Linked DNA regions of Homo sapiens. The protein of the gene in region 1 interacts with the protein of each later gene in a pairwise test. Each region holds a gene or a part of one and is shown in the gene's direction. Other genes may lie near its edges.

The links.
Region 2: the proteins of PSMC6 (region 1) and FGFR3 interact in binary tests that used the Homo sapiens proteins (3 or more experiments, as listed by UniProt).
Region 3: the proteins of PSMC6 (region 1) and PSMD9 interact in binary tests that used the Homo sapiens proteins (3 or more experiments, as listed by UniProt).
Region 4: the proteins of PSMC6 (region 1) and CCDC146 interact in binary tests that used the Homo sapiens proteins (3 or more experiments, as listed by UniProt).

Annotation. Positions count from the first base shown.
Region 1 is NC_000014.9:52,717,140-52,720,773, forward strand, and holds part of PSMC6 (26S proteasome regulatory subunit 10B), read left to right. Parts: intron 1-941; coding exon 942-1,003; intron 1,004-1,089; coding exon 1,090-1,213; intron 1,214-1,837; coding exon 1,838-1,899; intron 1,900-3,634. UniProt on the Homo sapiens protein: Component of the 26S proteasome, a multiprotein complex involved in the ATP-dependent degradation of ubiquitinated proteins.
Region 2 is NC_000004.12:1,799,793-1,803,426, forward strand, and holds part of FGFR3 (fibroblast growth factor receptor 3 isoform 1 precursor), read left to right. Parts: coding exon 1-20; intron 21-1,574; coding exon 1,575-1,744; intron 1,745-1,827; coding exon 1,828-1,951; intron 1,952-2,042; coding exon 2,043-2,233; intron 2,234-3,121; coding exon of another isoform or gene 3,122-3,272; intron 3,273-3,634.
Region 3 is NC_000012.12:121,902,290-121,905,923, forward strand, and holds part of PSMD9 (26S proteasome non-ATPase regulatory subunit 9), read left to right. Parts: intron 1-716; coding exon 717-818; intron 819-3,634. UniProt on the Homo sapiens protein: Acts as a chaperone during the assembly of the 26S proteasome, specifically of the base subcomplex of the PA700/19S regulatory complex (RC).
Region 4 is NC_000007.14:77,286,615-77,290,248, forward strand, and holds part of CCDC146 (coiled-coil domain-containing protein 146), read left to right. Parts: intron 1-183; coding exon 184-312; intron 313-825; coding exon 826-963; intron 964-3,634. UniProt on the Homo sapiens protein: Essential for sperm flagellum biogenesis and male fertility.

The DNA of each region.
Region 1 (3,634 bases):
TAACCACAAAGTAATGCTAAGCATGTGAGGTGATGGATATGTTGATTTGCCTGATTTAATCATTCTTCAATATATACATGTATCATAATTTAACCCATAAATATACAATTTATTTGTCAATTTAAAATAGATTTTAAAAATTATAACATTTTGATTAAAATTTTAATGTTGACAGCAGAAGTACTTTGGAATTTTTTTTTTTTTTTTTTTTTTGAGACAGAGTCTTGCTCTGTCACCCAGGCTGGAGTGCAGTGGCGAGATTATAAGCTCACTGCAACCCCCACCTCCCGGATTCAAGCGATTCTCCTGCCTCAGCCTCCCCAGTAGGTGGGACTACAGGCATGTGCCACCACGCTCAGCTAATTTTTTGTATTTTTAGTAGAGACGGGGTTTCACTGTGTTTCGATCTCCTGACCCTGTGATCTGCCCGCCTCAGCCTCCCAAAGTGCTGGGATTACAGGTGTGAGCCACCACACCTGGCCAAGTACTTTGGAATTTTAAATGAAAATTCTATTTAGGATTTAGCTTTCATTTTGGAAAATTTACTTGCCAAACGATTATATTCTTAAAAGGATTTTAAAAATTTGTTTCACATAGGCCGGGTGCGGTGGCTCCTGCCTGTAATCCCAGCACTTTGGGAGGCTGAAGTGGCAGGATCACCTGAGCCCAAGAGTTCAAGACCAGCCTGCGCAACACAGAGAGACCCCGTCTCTGAAAAACAAACAGACAAACAAAAAACTTAGCTGTGCGTGATGGCACATGCCTGTCATCCCAGCTACTTGGGAGGCTGAGGTGGGAAAATCGCTTAGGTCTGGGAGGTCAAGGTTGCAGTGAGCTGTGATCTCGCCACACTCCAGCCTAGGTGACAGAGTGATTGCCTGTCTCAAAACAAATTTTTTTCTACCTTACCATCTAATTAAGACTTCTTTTGTCATTCTTAGGTACGGGAAAAACACTCTTGGCACGAGCCGTTGCTAGCCAGCTGGACTGCAATTTCTTAAAGGTAAAGGGAAGATTATTTTGTACTTATTGAAATTTAATTTTACTTGAATTATCTTATATTTACCTTACTGTTTTTCCTTTAATCAGGTTGTATCTAGTTCTATTGTAGACAAGTACATTGGTGAAAGTGCTCGTTTGATCAGAGAAATGTTTAATTATGCTAGAGATCATCAACCATGCATCATTTTTATGGATGAAATAGATGCTATTGGTAAGAATAACACCCTTGTTGAAAGTTTTAGGACTTTTTTTTAAATGTAAAAGAACCTTTTTCCCTCTCTTAATCTGTAATTGTGACTTGTATGAAGTAGATACCACAATGAATCAGATGTTAGTTTAACCAATTTTAATAAATAACCTTTCATGGCCGGGTGTGGTGGCTCATGCCTGTAATCCCAGCACTTTGAGAGGCCAAGGTGGGCAGATCACCAGGTCAGGAGATCGAGACCATCTGGCCAACATGGTGAAACCCTGTCTCTACTAAAAATACAAAAATTAGCTGGATGTGGTGGCACATGCCTGTAATCCCAGCTACTGAGGAGGCTGAGGCACGAGAATCGCTTGAACCCAGGAGACGTAGGTTGCAGTGAGCCGAGATCACACCACTGCACTCCAGCCTGGCGACAGAGCGAGACTCCGTCTCAATAAATAACCTTTCACTTTAACAAAATGAGAAATGTTACACCAAAATCAAGTCTAACTTTGTCAGCATAATTCTTGCTCTTTAATTTTCATCTTAATGTTTTAAGCCACAGACTGTTATGTTCTGTTTTCTTAAATGATGGTTGTAGAGGAAAAGAGTAATGCATATAAATTTCCAAATCTACTATCTTAGGTGGTCGTCGGTTTTCTGAGGGTACTTCAGCTGACAGAGAGATTCAGAGAACGTTAATGGAGGTAATATTTGGTAAAGGGGGTTTATAAAGAAACCAATGTTTATTAAATGAAGAACTGAACATTGCATATTTGATAGTCAAAATATATAGAACATTTTAAATGAAATATGAAATTTGAAAATATTGTCAGGAACAAACATGTTTCTCTATCACAAACTCTAAGAAAATGACTACTGGAAAATAAGGCTATCTGCCAAATTCCATTTGGTATACACCTGTACTATTCTGTGTTTTTTTGAGTAGATCAGTCATTCATATATTTAAATTCTTATGAATGTGATCTTGCGGTAGTTTTATGAAGACATTTTTTGTAATGGTCATATTAAGACTGTTGGCAATAAATGAGCTATAATTATGTATGAAGCTGCTCTAAAAATTATTTTTTTCTCTCACTTTATTGCTGAGACTGAGGCAACTAAAATAGTTTTGATAATTGAAGAGGATAGATGACAGAATGAAAGAATGCACATAAAGCCTTCCTCCAGTTTTACCTTTCCCCACTCCAAATTCTGTGAAAGTGATATCAAGAGTCCAAATACATTTTCCACTTCAAATAGAAACTAGGTAGCATGGGTAATGCAGTGTCAAATTCTTTCTCCTTAGAAGTATTTGAAAAATCTTTTTTCATAAATTATACAGATCCGCTCAGAAGATAACATAGCATTTGGAAATTATAAAATCTCTTAGAAACCTTAAATTGAGATATTTTTAAATAACACAAATACTCATTTTATTCAAGTAACTAATATATCATCAACTAACACATTGTCAGACTAGCTATATTTTAGAGAGTTTGTTAAATGCAGTAAGGTTTTTCATTTATTCAAGAAAACTTTAGAAATTGAGGACAATATTTTTTATGTCTTTTAGTATTTCTGTGTACAGTAGAATTATTTGAAAAAATAGGCCAGGCATGGTGGCTTCTGCCTGTAATCCCAGCACTTTGGGAGGCCCAGCTGGGCAGATCATGAGGTCTGAGCATTGAGACCAGCCTGACCAACGTAGCGAAACACCATCTCTAGTAAAGATACAAAAATTAGCTGGGCGTGGTGGCGTGTGCCTGTAATCCCAGTTACTCAGGAGGCTGAGGCAGGAGAATTGCTTGAACCCAGGAGGTGAGGTTGCAGTGGGCTGAGATCGCCCCATTGCACTCCAGCCTGGGTGACAGAGCGAGAGTCTGTCTCCAAAAAAAAAAAAAAAAAAAAAAGCAGTCCCAGCTACTCAGGAGGTTGAGGTGGGAGGACTGGTCGAGCCCAGGAGGTGAAGGTTGCAGTGAGCGATGATCAGGCCACAGTACTCCAGCCTGGGTGACAGAGTGAAACTCTGTCTCAAAAAAAAAAAAAAAAAAAAAAAAAAAAAATTATCAGTTTATTATCAAATTTGTAGAAAAATCTTTGTATCCATTTATCCTAATATAAATGTTATGTCTGACATATCATAAGCACTTTATATATTGGATTTTATTATTAGCTTTTCCTTTAAAAAATAATTGATGAAATTTTGGACATTGGAAATTAGATCCACATAGTTTAATTTCATAATTCTTGACATGATGGAAGCCTTCAGATTTATTAAAACTACCTGGTAGCTATAGAAAGATACATAGCTATTAAAAGGTACATAATCTAGCTTAGAACTTTGAGGCTAGAAAGTATATCCCTTTATATAAGAGAGAGAAAAAGAATTCTATCAAATGACCATTCTGAAGATAGAACATATCTATCTGTAGACAATAC
Region 2 (3,634 bases), on another chromosome or scaffold:
GGACACAGGTGTGGACACAGGTAGGAGCAGGGTCCAGGGTTCAGGCCAGCCGGGGTGGGGCCCGCTGCCACCGCCAAGCCCTGCCCTTCACAGGCAGCTGAGGGACTAAGGCCCCGGAACAACCTCCCTGGGGTCACCCCGAAGGTCTGGTCCCCTCAGGATACAGGAGGGGCTGGGTCACTGACATGGCTCTAGATGCCCCACCCTGGTGGCAGGGCTGGGGTGCAAGGGGACACCGTGTTGCTGATGGGGAGACTGAGGCACAGGGCCCTGGGGGTTCCAGGAGCAGGAGGAGGCCAGGGCTGGCCTGTGGGGCTCTGGTGTTGGCTATAGGTGAGGTGGACCCCGCAGACATTAGCGCAGCAGGGCAGGGCACTCAGGTGGCTGCCGTGGGGTGGATGGACCCGGGGTGAGGGCGCCGGGGCACCTGCCACAACCAGTGGCGGGCAGGGTGGCTGGCAGGAGGGTGGCTGGTGGGTGGGCTGCGGCTGTGAGAGAGCAGTCGGGGACGATGCCTGGCGTCCCGGCCTGGAACGGTGGCAGGTGGACTTTGCCAAGTTGTAGGGTGGGGAGGTGGGGCTTCTGGTTTTGGAGGGAGCTCTGAGGGGAGTGCGTGCAGGTGAGGGTCATCGTGGCACAGACATGGGGGGCAGTTACGACTTGCGGACTGATGGTGTGTGCGCTGGGTCCCTGGGCCAGTGGGGTAAGCAGGTGAGGAAGGGAGGCTGAGTCCATGAGAGAAACAGCTGGGGGAACTCACCCTGGGGGTCTCCAGGAGGCCTGGGAGGGAGCTCAGCACCGTGGGGTGCCTCTTTCCAGCCTGTGTCCACACTGCTGCTTGCTGGGCCTCAGTGCCCCTGATGGGCGTGTGCCTGGAGGGGGCTGGCAGTGAGCTCACTGAGGGGAGGGCTGCTTCCCTCCTGGGGAATGCCAGCCCATCCTTGCCTGGAGTCCCGGCAGGAAGGCAGCACCAGCCCTGAGGAAGGAGAAAAACCAGTTGGGCTGTGAGAGGGGTGGTGGGAGCCCTGGACATCGAGATGGGAGGAGGCAGGGCCTCCAGGGTGCCACCGTCTCTGGGTGCCCGCCAGACTTGGAGCTCTGCAGAGGGTGGTGTAGGGTCTTGATTTCCGTGGGCCCATGCTGCCCAGCTGCCTCCAAGGCTCCTGGCTCTGCAGGCGACTGGGCTCCTCTCCTGGTAAACTGCTCCCAGGTCCTGGCTTGTCCACTAGATGGGCCTGCCCCCTGGGTCTTCAGTCTCCCCGTTGGTGGGCCTGGCCCTGGCACGCCTCTCTGGGCAGGTGGGCTCCCCTGGACAATGCCCTGTGCCCTGTGACTTCACAGGTCCGGGCAGAGCACCCTGGAGGGGAGGGGAGGGGACACACGGCCCAGCTCTGAGAAAGCCCCGGGGAGGGGACAAGATGTGGAGGCTCCTGGGAACCTCATCCCGCCCTCTTCCTACACAGGACGGGAAACTGAGGCTGGGGATGGGCAGGGGCAGCTCTGGGAAGGGGGTTGTTCAGAGGGGCCTCTGCTCCCACTCGGGTCATGGCCTTCACACGCACCTCGGCCCGCAGGGGCCCCTTACTGGACACGGCCCGAGCGGATGGACAAGAAGCTGCTGGCCGTGCCGGCCGCCAACACCGTCCGCTTCCGCTGCCCAGCCGCTGGCAACCCCACTCCCTCCATCTCCTGGCTGAAGAACGGCAGGGAGTTCCGCGGCGAGCACCGCATTGGAGGCATCAAGGTGGGCGCGGCGGGGTGGCTCTGGGCCTGGCAGGCGCGGTGGTTGCTGCCTCCGCTCACTCACCCGCCCGCGTCCCGGTGCAGCTGCGGCATCAGCAGTGGAGCCTGGTCATGGAAAGCGTGGTGCCCTCGGACCGCGGCAACTACACCTGCGTCGTGGAGAACAAGTTTGGCAGCATCCGGCAGACGTACACGCTGGACGTGCTGGGTGAGGGCCCTGGGGCGGCGCGGGGGTGGGGGCGGCAGTGGCGGTGGTGGTGAGGGAGGGGGTGGCCCCTGAGCGTCATCTGCCCCCACAGAGCGCTCCCCGCACCGGCCCATCCTGCAGGCGGGGCTGCCGGCCAACCAGACGGCGGTGCTGGGCAGCGACGTGGAGTTCCACTGCAAGGTGTACAGTGACGCACAGCCCCACATCCAGTGGCTCAAGCACGTGGAGGTGAATGGCAGCAAGGTGGGCCCGGACGGCACACCCTACGTTACCGTGCTCAAGGTGGGCCACCGTGTGCACGTGGGTGCCGCCGCTGGGGCTCCTGGGCTGGCCCCAAGGGTGCCCCTTGGCTGCGGGTTGCGTGAGGATTTGGGTCTAGGGGTTGGAGCTTCGGGGGCAGAAGCTGTGGGGGTGCTTGTGGGGCCAAGTCTCAGCCACCCCACACCTCAGGGCCATAGGCAGCTGCGTTGGGACCCGTTTCCGTGTCTGCAGAGGGCCAGCCTCAGCCACTGAAGTCCCTGACATGGAGCTGCCCACGGGCTTCTTGGGGGTGGGTGCGGCTTGGGCAGCAGTGGTGCCCCAGGACAGGAGGGCAGTGTGGCCAAGCCCTCCAGGCCCCCTCTGGGCCTCAGAGGCGGTGGCTGAGCCCCGACCTGGCCGATTGGCTCTCGTCAGCTGTGTGCAGTGGGGCCCGAGCTCACTGTCTGCCCGCCTCCTGAAGCCCTTAGCTTTGTTCCCATGGCTGCCGGGTGGGGGCCACTGAATTGGGACGGTTGCGACACTCAAAGCCCAAAGAGAAACATCTGTTCAGAGAGAAGACGGTCTCTTGGGGGCGGGGAGCAGGCGCAGGGCGAGGGTGGAGTCCAGACCCCGCCCAGAGAGGCCGCCTCGGGCCCTGTCCAGGGTGCAGGTTCTGCAAGAGCCCGGGGGAGGGCAGGCCAGTGACCAGAGGTTGTCTGAGGGTCTGGGCTGGGTTGTTGGGGTGGAGGCAGAGACGTGCATCCTGTGAAACCACAGCCACCGTGAAGTGCCTCCACGCCTCCTCCAGGCAGCCTTTGGGGCTGACGCAGCCCAGCCTCGATCTGTACCTTGGGGGTCTCCCACATCCTGCCTCGTGCCCGGCGGGGCTGCCTCGGGGGCGTGCCTGAGCCGGGTCTCTTGTCCCCGCAGTCCTGGATCAGTGAGAGTGTGGAGGCCGACGTGCGCCTCCGCCTGGCCAATGTGTCGGAGCGGGACGGGGGCGAGTACCTCTGTCGAGCCACCAATTTCATAGGCGTGGCCGAGAAGGCCTTTTGGCTGAGCGTTCACGGGCCCCGAGCAGGTAACGACTCTGTCCCATGCCGGCCGGCACAAGAGCTCCAGCTCCAAGGCCCTGGCCGCGCGCCCTGCACGCCCCGCACGCCCAGCCCTGCTCGCTCCCGCCCCGGCTCGCGCTCCACTCGGGGCCGCCTCGGCAAGGCTGGCAGCTCCAGCCTCCACGGTGACCGCCCGCTTCGAGCCCTGTGGCCTGCGCCGACCCTTCCCGCACGCCTGCGACCCCCACAGGAGGTGCCCGGTGCCCACCGGGCCGGCTCCGTGCCGTCTGTGAGCACCCCTTTGCGCCTCTCTCCACCCCTGCCCGCTGCCTGCTCGCTTCCGCAGCCTGTGTGTCCCTGTGTCCATCCTCCACCTGCACCCGCCCGG
Region 3 (3,634 bases), on another chromosome or scaffold:
CACATAGTTCCTGCCAGGTGGAATGGGGTCCTAAACCCTGGTCAGGACACATAGTTCCTGCCAGGTGGAATGGGGTCCTAAACCCTGGTCCTACCAGTCTTCTTTAATGGTCACAAGTCTGTAAGTTACACAGAAGCTCCCTATCATTCACTACCCCATCTACTGCATCTAACCCAGTGCCAGTTGGCCCACAACAAATACTTGTTACAGGGGTGAATGAGTGGTGGTCTGTCTTCTTAGGACCTAGAACAAGAGCGTCACTCTAGTCTTGGATGCGCCCTGTGCCTGTGGCTGCTTGTCTGGGGGCTTCTAGGGCAAGTGTCTTGTCTAAATGTTGATCACTGAATAAAATGGGCCCAGCCTGGCTTGCCTTCTCTTACCCTTGAACCTGGGTTAGGACCGCAGAGAGCAGCATTTGGCCTTTCCCATGCTCCTCAAGGCCTTCACAGTGTCTGGTAACTGCCAGCTCTCAGACATTGGGCAGACCTGGTCATCTTTACTAGAGCTGCCCTCAAAGGAACCCCAGGAGGAGGTGGCCCCGTTACCCACTGCCCCTTCCTGCATGAGGTGTCTACATCCCTGACCTCTTTGTTCTGAGCCTACCCTGTAGAAAACAAGCTCGTGACCTTGGCATTAAATTGGGTATTGAAGGTTAGAGACCACCAGGAGCACACTGAACCTCTAGCCTGATTTTCCATTTTTCCTTCCCTCTCCAGGGTCTGCAAGTGGATGATGAGATTGTGGAGTTCGGCTCTGTGAACACCCAGAACTTCCAGTCACTGCATAACATTGGCAGTGTGGTGCAGCACAGTGAGGGGGTGAGTGGGGCTACCTGGTGTCTCGGTCTGTTTGGGTTTTTCTAACAGTATGCCATAGACTGCGTGGCTTACAAACAACAGAAGTTCATTTTTCACAGCTCTGGAGGCAGGGAAGTCCAAGATCCAGGCACCAGCCAATTTGGTGTCTGGGGAGGGCTTGCTTCCTAACTCCTAGGTGGTGCCTTCTTGCTGTGTCCTCACATGGCAGAAAGGGGAGGAACCCTGGGAGCTCTTGTATAAGGGCACTAATCCCAGTGGGGGCGCCACCCCTCATGACCTAATCACCTTGCAGAGGCCCCACCCCTAATACCATCACATTGGTGGTTAGGATTTCAACATATGAATTTCAGGGGGCCACAGACATTCAGGTCATAGCACTCGGCCTCTGGTCTATAGCCCTGGAGTTACTGGAAGTGTTGCTGAGGCCCTGGACTGCTGCCTTCATGGTGTTGCTCAGCACAGCCCCATTCAAGGACTTGGCACCTGCTATTCCTTCTGTTTAGAATGCTCTTCCTCTTCATCCTCCTTCTGTTTTACACTGGTGACATGCTCGCAGGGGGCCTTTCCTGGCTACCCTAACCCAAATTCCCCTCTCCTCTGCCCTGTCTCTGTTTTCATTTAACAAGGTTTCTTAGAGATCTTTTCTTTTTTTTTTTTTTTTTTTTAAGACAGGGTCATGCTGTGTCACCCAGGCTAGAGTGTGGTGGTGCTATCATAACTACCTCACGGCTAATTTTTTTATATTTTGTGGAGGCGGGGTCTTGCTATGTTGTCCAGGCTGGAATTTTTGTTGTTGTTTTGTAGCAAAGATCCACACTTTTCAGGAGTGATACTGTGGCAAAGCCCAGGAAAATTATTAACTAAAGTTTTTGGTTCCCAAATGAAGTCTCCAGTTAACCCAACAGTTGTGGATTTTTTGACTCCTGCTTAGCTGCACGGTTCATCTACTTGTAACCCATCAGTGCAGGCCAGGCCAGGTCAGGTCAGGAGATGGCTGGCAGTTGCCTATGCCCCTGCTAGTGGTCAGGCCATCGTTTCTGCACTGATACTGTCATCAAATCTGTAACTTGTATGGACGTTTAAAATGATGATTTTGTGAAATTTATCAGTTTTTTTGCTTATGGCTCTTGCATTTTGTGTCCATTTAAAGAAATTCTTTTTTTTTTTTTTAATTAAGAAATTCTTGGCTGGGCGTGGTGGCTCACTCCTGTAATCCCAGCACTTTAGGAGGGCGAGGTGGGTGGATCACGAAGTCAGGAGTTGGAGACCATCCTGGCTAACACGGTGAAACCCCGTCTCTACTAAAAATACAAAAAATTAGCCGGGTGTGGTGGCACACACTTGTAGTCCCAGTTACTTGGGAGACTGAGGAAGGAGAATCGCTTGAACCCAGGAGGCAGAGCTTGCAGTGAGCCGAGATCGCGCCATTGCACTCCAGCCTAGGCGACAGAGCAAGACTCTGTCTCAAAAAAAGAAATTCTTTTAATTCTTTTATTGTTTTATTTCTGTTTTTCCTTTAGTCCATCTGAAATTTATTATTATTATTATTATTATTATTATTATTATTTGAGATGGAGTCTCGCTCTGTCACCCAGGCTGGAGTGCAGTGGTGCGATCTTGGCTCACTGCAACCTCCGCCTCCCAGGTTCAAGTGATTCTCCTGCCTCAGCCTCCTGAGTAGCTGGGATTACAGGCGCCCACCACCATGCCTGGCTAATTTTTGTATTTTTAGTAGAGATGGGGTTTCGCTATGTTGGCCAGGCTGGTCTCAAACTGGCCTCCCAAAGTGCTGGGACTACAGATGTGAGCCACTGCGCCTGGTCTATTTTTATTATTTTTACAACAGTTTTATTGAGATTTAATGCACATACTACACAGTTCACCCATTTAAAGTGGTTTTTAGTGTAGTCACAGAATTATGCAGCCATCACAATTGTACATTTTCATCACTTCTCCTCCTGAGGCAGCCACTTTCCAGCCACATGTCCTTCAGAAAGACTGCTCATATACCAGCACACAGAGCTGCCAGTTGATTTTATTTTATTAAGGTGTAATTTACCTGCACCAGATCCACCTTTTTCAGTGTACAGTCCCATGAGTTTTCTTCTTTTTCTTTTCTTTTTTTTTTTTTAGATGGAGTCTTGCTCTGTCGCCCAGGCTGGAGTGCAGTGGTGCAGTCTCGGGGGGGCTACTGCAAGCTCTGCCTCCCAGGTTCACGCCATTCTCCTGCCTCAGCCTCCCGAGTAGCTGGGACTACAGGCATGTGCCACCATGCCCAGCTAATTTTTTTGTATTTTTAGTAGAGATGGGGTTTCACTGTGTTAGCCAGGATGGTCTCGATCTCCTGACCTCGTGATCCACCTGCCTTGGCCTCCCAAAGTGCTGGGATTACAGGTGTGAGCCACCACACCCAGCCGAGTTTTCTTTTTTTTTTCTTTAAGATGGAGTTTTGCTCTTTTGCCCAGTCTGGAGTGCAGTGGCACGATCTCGGCTCACTGCAACCTCTGCCTCCCAGGTTCAAGCGATTCTCCAGCCTCAGTCTCCCAAGTAGCTGGGATTATAGGTGCCCACCACCACGCCCAGCTAATTTTTTTTTGTATTTTTAGTAGAGACAGGGTTTCAGCATGTTGGCCAGGCTGGTCTCAAACTCCTAACCTCAGGTGATCCACCCACCTCAGCCTCCCAAAGTTCTGGGATTACAGGAGTGAGCCACTGTGGCCTGCCATTCCCGTGAGTTTTCACAAATGTATGTAGTATGTCATTGCCACCACGATGAAGGTCAAGAGCATTCCAACACCCCATAAAATTGCCTCAGG
Region 4 (3,634 bases), on another chromosome or scaffold:
CATAAATGAGCAGAAACGTCACTTAACCAGGTCCCAGCTGATGGGGTGTTAAGAAAACAGAGTTCTCTTCTACCCTTGTCTGGGTTGGTCCTACTAAAAAACTCTCAAGACCCTAGGCAATGTGATTTTCAGATTAACTGAGCTAGAGCGTTCATTTTAAAGTTAATGTTTTTTTCTTAATAGTTTTCACAGTGTACAGACAGAATTAAAGACCTGGAGAAACAGTTCGTAAAGCCTGATGGTGAGAATAGAGCTCGCTTCCTTCCAGGGAAAGATCTGACCGAAAAAGAAATGATCCAAAAATTAGACAAGGTAAACATTATTGCTTAAAATTGCATCTGTTAGCTCCTCGTTGATGTAGTTTCACAGATACCTATGGTACTGTTTCATGTTATGCTGACAGACCTATCCTTCATTATTCTAGTCACTAATATAGTCCTTTTGTTGTAATCTAGTCATACATTCTAAGCTTGATTTAGACACTTGCCAAAAGAAGTTCCAATCCAGTGGTTTCGAGATTCCAAAGGCACATTTCTCTCATGACCCAAAGGAGTAATTTTGGCATCTTAAATGGATTAATTTGTCTTCCTGATGGGAGCACATCAGAAGAATGGTGATGTGGATGTTAGATAGAGCTGAGGGGGCCATACTCGAACTCCCAGAGGTATCTGCAGGGGCTGGGGCAGGGAAAGTCTTAACCCAGCTCTAAACACTTTCCAGAGGTATTTTGTGGGGGGTAGGGGGAGATACTGCTCTAATTAGGAAATAAGATTTTGTCTTAGATGACTTTTTTTTTATTCCTCTTGAACCAATTTTCAAACATAGCTGGAACTACAACTGGCCAAGAAGGAGGAGAAGCTGCTGGAGAAGGATTTCATCTATGAGCAGGTCTCCAGGCTCACAGACAGGCTCTGCAGCAAAACTCAGGGCTGCAAGCAGGACACACTGCTCTTAGCCAAGAAGGTAGGCCTGAGACCCTGCCTTTTCCCTTCTGCCCCTGCTCCTTTATTACCTTTTATTTTCCACAGACCGACAGATTTATTGAGAGAAGCACTGGAGAGATTAGGCTTTATGACTAGGGGAACTTAGAAAAACGAAAGGATGACTCAGAGAATTGTCCAAAATGTTTCAATCTTATTCCCTGAATTAATTCACTTCACGGTGGCAAAACCTAGGCTTTTAAATGACACTATACAAGTTTCACTTACCAAGGCAACTACCCAAATATGACAGTTATTATCTTTGTATTTCATGCACAAAGTTAAATCCTTTTTAGTTCCTTTTAAGTGGAGCGCCTCACTTATCCAGTGATCTTAGTAGGGACTGCTCCAATCCAGAACTCAGCCAGAACCCAGAAATTGAAAGGGACTGATAAAGAGAAATGCAGTCACACAACACCCAGACCAACTGCACCATGGAGGTGCCCACCAGGCACCACTAGTGAGGAAAGGCCAGGAATACAGAACCCCCTAATTTAATAAGCGTAAGAGACCAGGACAGCAGATCCAGAGCCTCAGGGTCAGGGTGGGACTGCTAGAAGCTGCACTGAAAGGAGCAGCCAGCAGAGCCCCTAGAAGTCCCCCTGGACTCCCAGCATGTTGCATGCTAGTTACCCTGGTCTCTGTAACAACCTGCAATGAAGAGGTGAAGGCTGTCTATTAGTTCGTTTGCATTGCTGTAAAGGAATACCTGAGGCTGGGTAACTGATAAAGAAAAGAGGTTTATTTTGGCTCATGGTTCTGCAGGCTGTGCAGGAAGCATGGTGCCTGCAGGTCTTGCCAGGCTTCCTGTGGCTCTGACTCCTGCTTCCAACAAAGGTTCATTTGGGGAATTGCCCCATCAGCCTGTACACCCATTTCTGGGTCATGTCCGTGCAGGCACGGGACTCACTCCTTCCTCAGTCTACCCCTACACAAGACCATTCATGCGAGGCCTTTCATGCATACCATAGAGCCATCAGAGGACTGGCCACTCACCTGGCCTCTGGGTTCCCTGGAGCATCCCGTCAATGCAGAGAGTTCAGCCAGTCAACAGTAATTACTGAACACCTGCTATGTGCTACTCTCATGCTAGGCATGAGTTCAGAAACAAAGAGGAAGGGACACATTGTTTACACCATAGGAAGCTCATAGGGTCTAGTAGGGGGAGACAGATGAAAACAGATAATGGTAATACCCACACCAGAGACTGTGGGCTCCTGAGGGCAGCAGCTGTTCCTCGTTCTTAATTTCTCCAATGCCTAGCATGTGCCAGACTCTAGAAAAACACTTCAAGGATGAGTAATCATCAGTTCTGTTCTAGAAGCACATGTGGAACACTAAACAAGAAATGATTGTAAATATTAGACTATCTTTGCCATTTTTATTTGACTATTATGCTTCTGCTCTGATGACTTCCATGACTAGACTGATCAGGCCAGTGGCAGGTGTGCAAATCACAACTTGGCCTCCCAAACTAAGGTACAAAGTTGTGAGTCACACGTCTGCCACTGGACTGATGCGAAGGCTCAGTTAAGCTCATGCACTTTGCCTGAATTAGCATGTCTGATATTTCTTTAAATAAACGTTGCCTTCCTTCCTTTTGCAAAATGAATTTCCCTTTCTTTGGGGGAAGTCATTTTTCACTGAGGCCTGACTTATCAAAGCTGATGGCAGAGTCGCCTGGAAGGCAACAGTAATGCTAAAGAAATGTACATAGCGGCCGCTTCCCATAGCCAGGAAAGCTCCAGCACAGCCGAGTCCTAGTCTAACAATTATTCTCCCCTTTCCTTTCCCTACCTTCCATGCTCTCCATTGGCTTCTTCCTCCTCCCCAGCTTTCACTGTCCCCACTCCATTTAAAATGATAATCTCATAGTAGGCAGAACTGGAAAGTAGAAAGACATTCAGATTCCAGATCTATGATTTATCAAAAGTAGAAAATGACCTTGAGAAAGATGGATAAATGATCTTAAAACTCAGTTTGCTCATCTGTGTAATGGGTGTGATAGCCAAAGTTGTTGCAAGTATTACATAGTCGAACACGTAAGTGACCTAGCCACATTCAAAAAGATTGCACATCTCCTCAAGTGTCTCACTTCTCCTAGATAGCTTATGGCGCCTCCTGCAAATTTCCCAACAGAAATGGGAGCAGAAAGTGGGAAATCTCAGTTAAGACTTGGAGCAACCCAGGATAATATGAAACTTTGTTTTCTAATTTATGGAAGAGAAGGGAAGTTGGCCAGTTACACAGATGGACACACACACTCGAGTGTGTAGTGGTTGCCATCCCATTACTGGGTATATACCCAAAGGATTATAAATCATGCTGCTATAAAGACACATGCACACGTATGTTTATTGCCACACTATTCACAATAGCAAAGACTTGGAACCAACCCAAATGTCCATCAATGATAGACTGGATTAAGCAAATGTGGTACATATACACCATGGAATACTATGCAGCCAAAAAAAGGATGAGTTCATGTCCTTTGTAGGGACATGGATGAAGCTGGAAACCATCATTCTCAGCAAACTATCACAAGGACAAAAAACCAAACACTGCATGTTCTCACTCATAGATGGGAACTGAACAATGAGAACACATGGACACATGAAGGGGAACACCGGGGCCTGTCATGGGGTGGGGGGAGG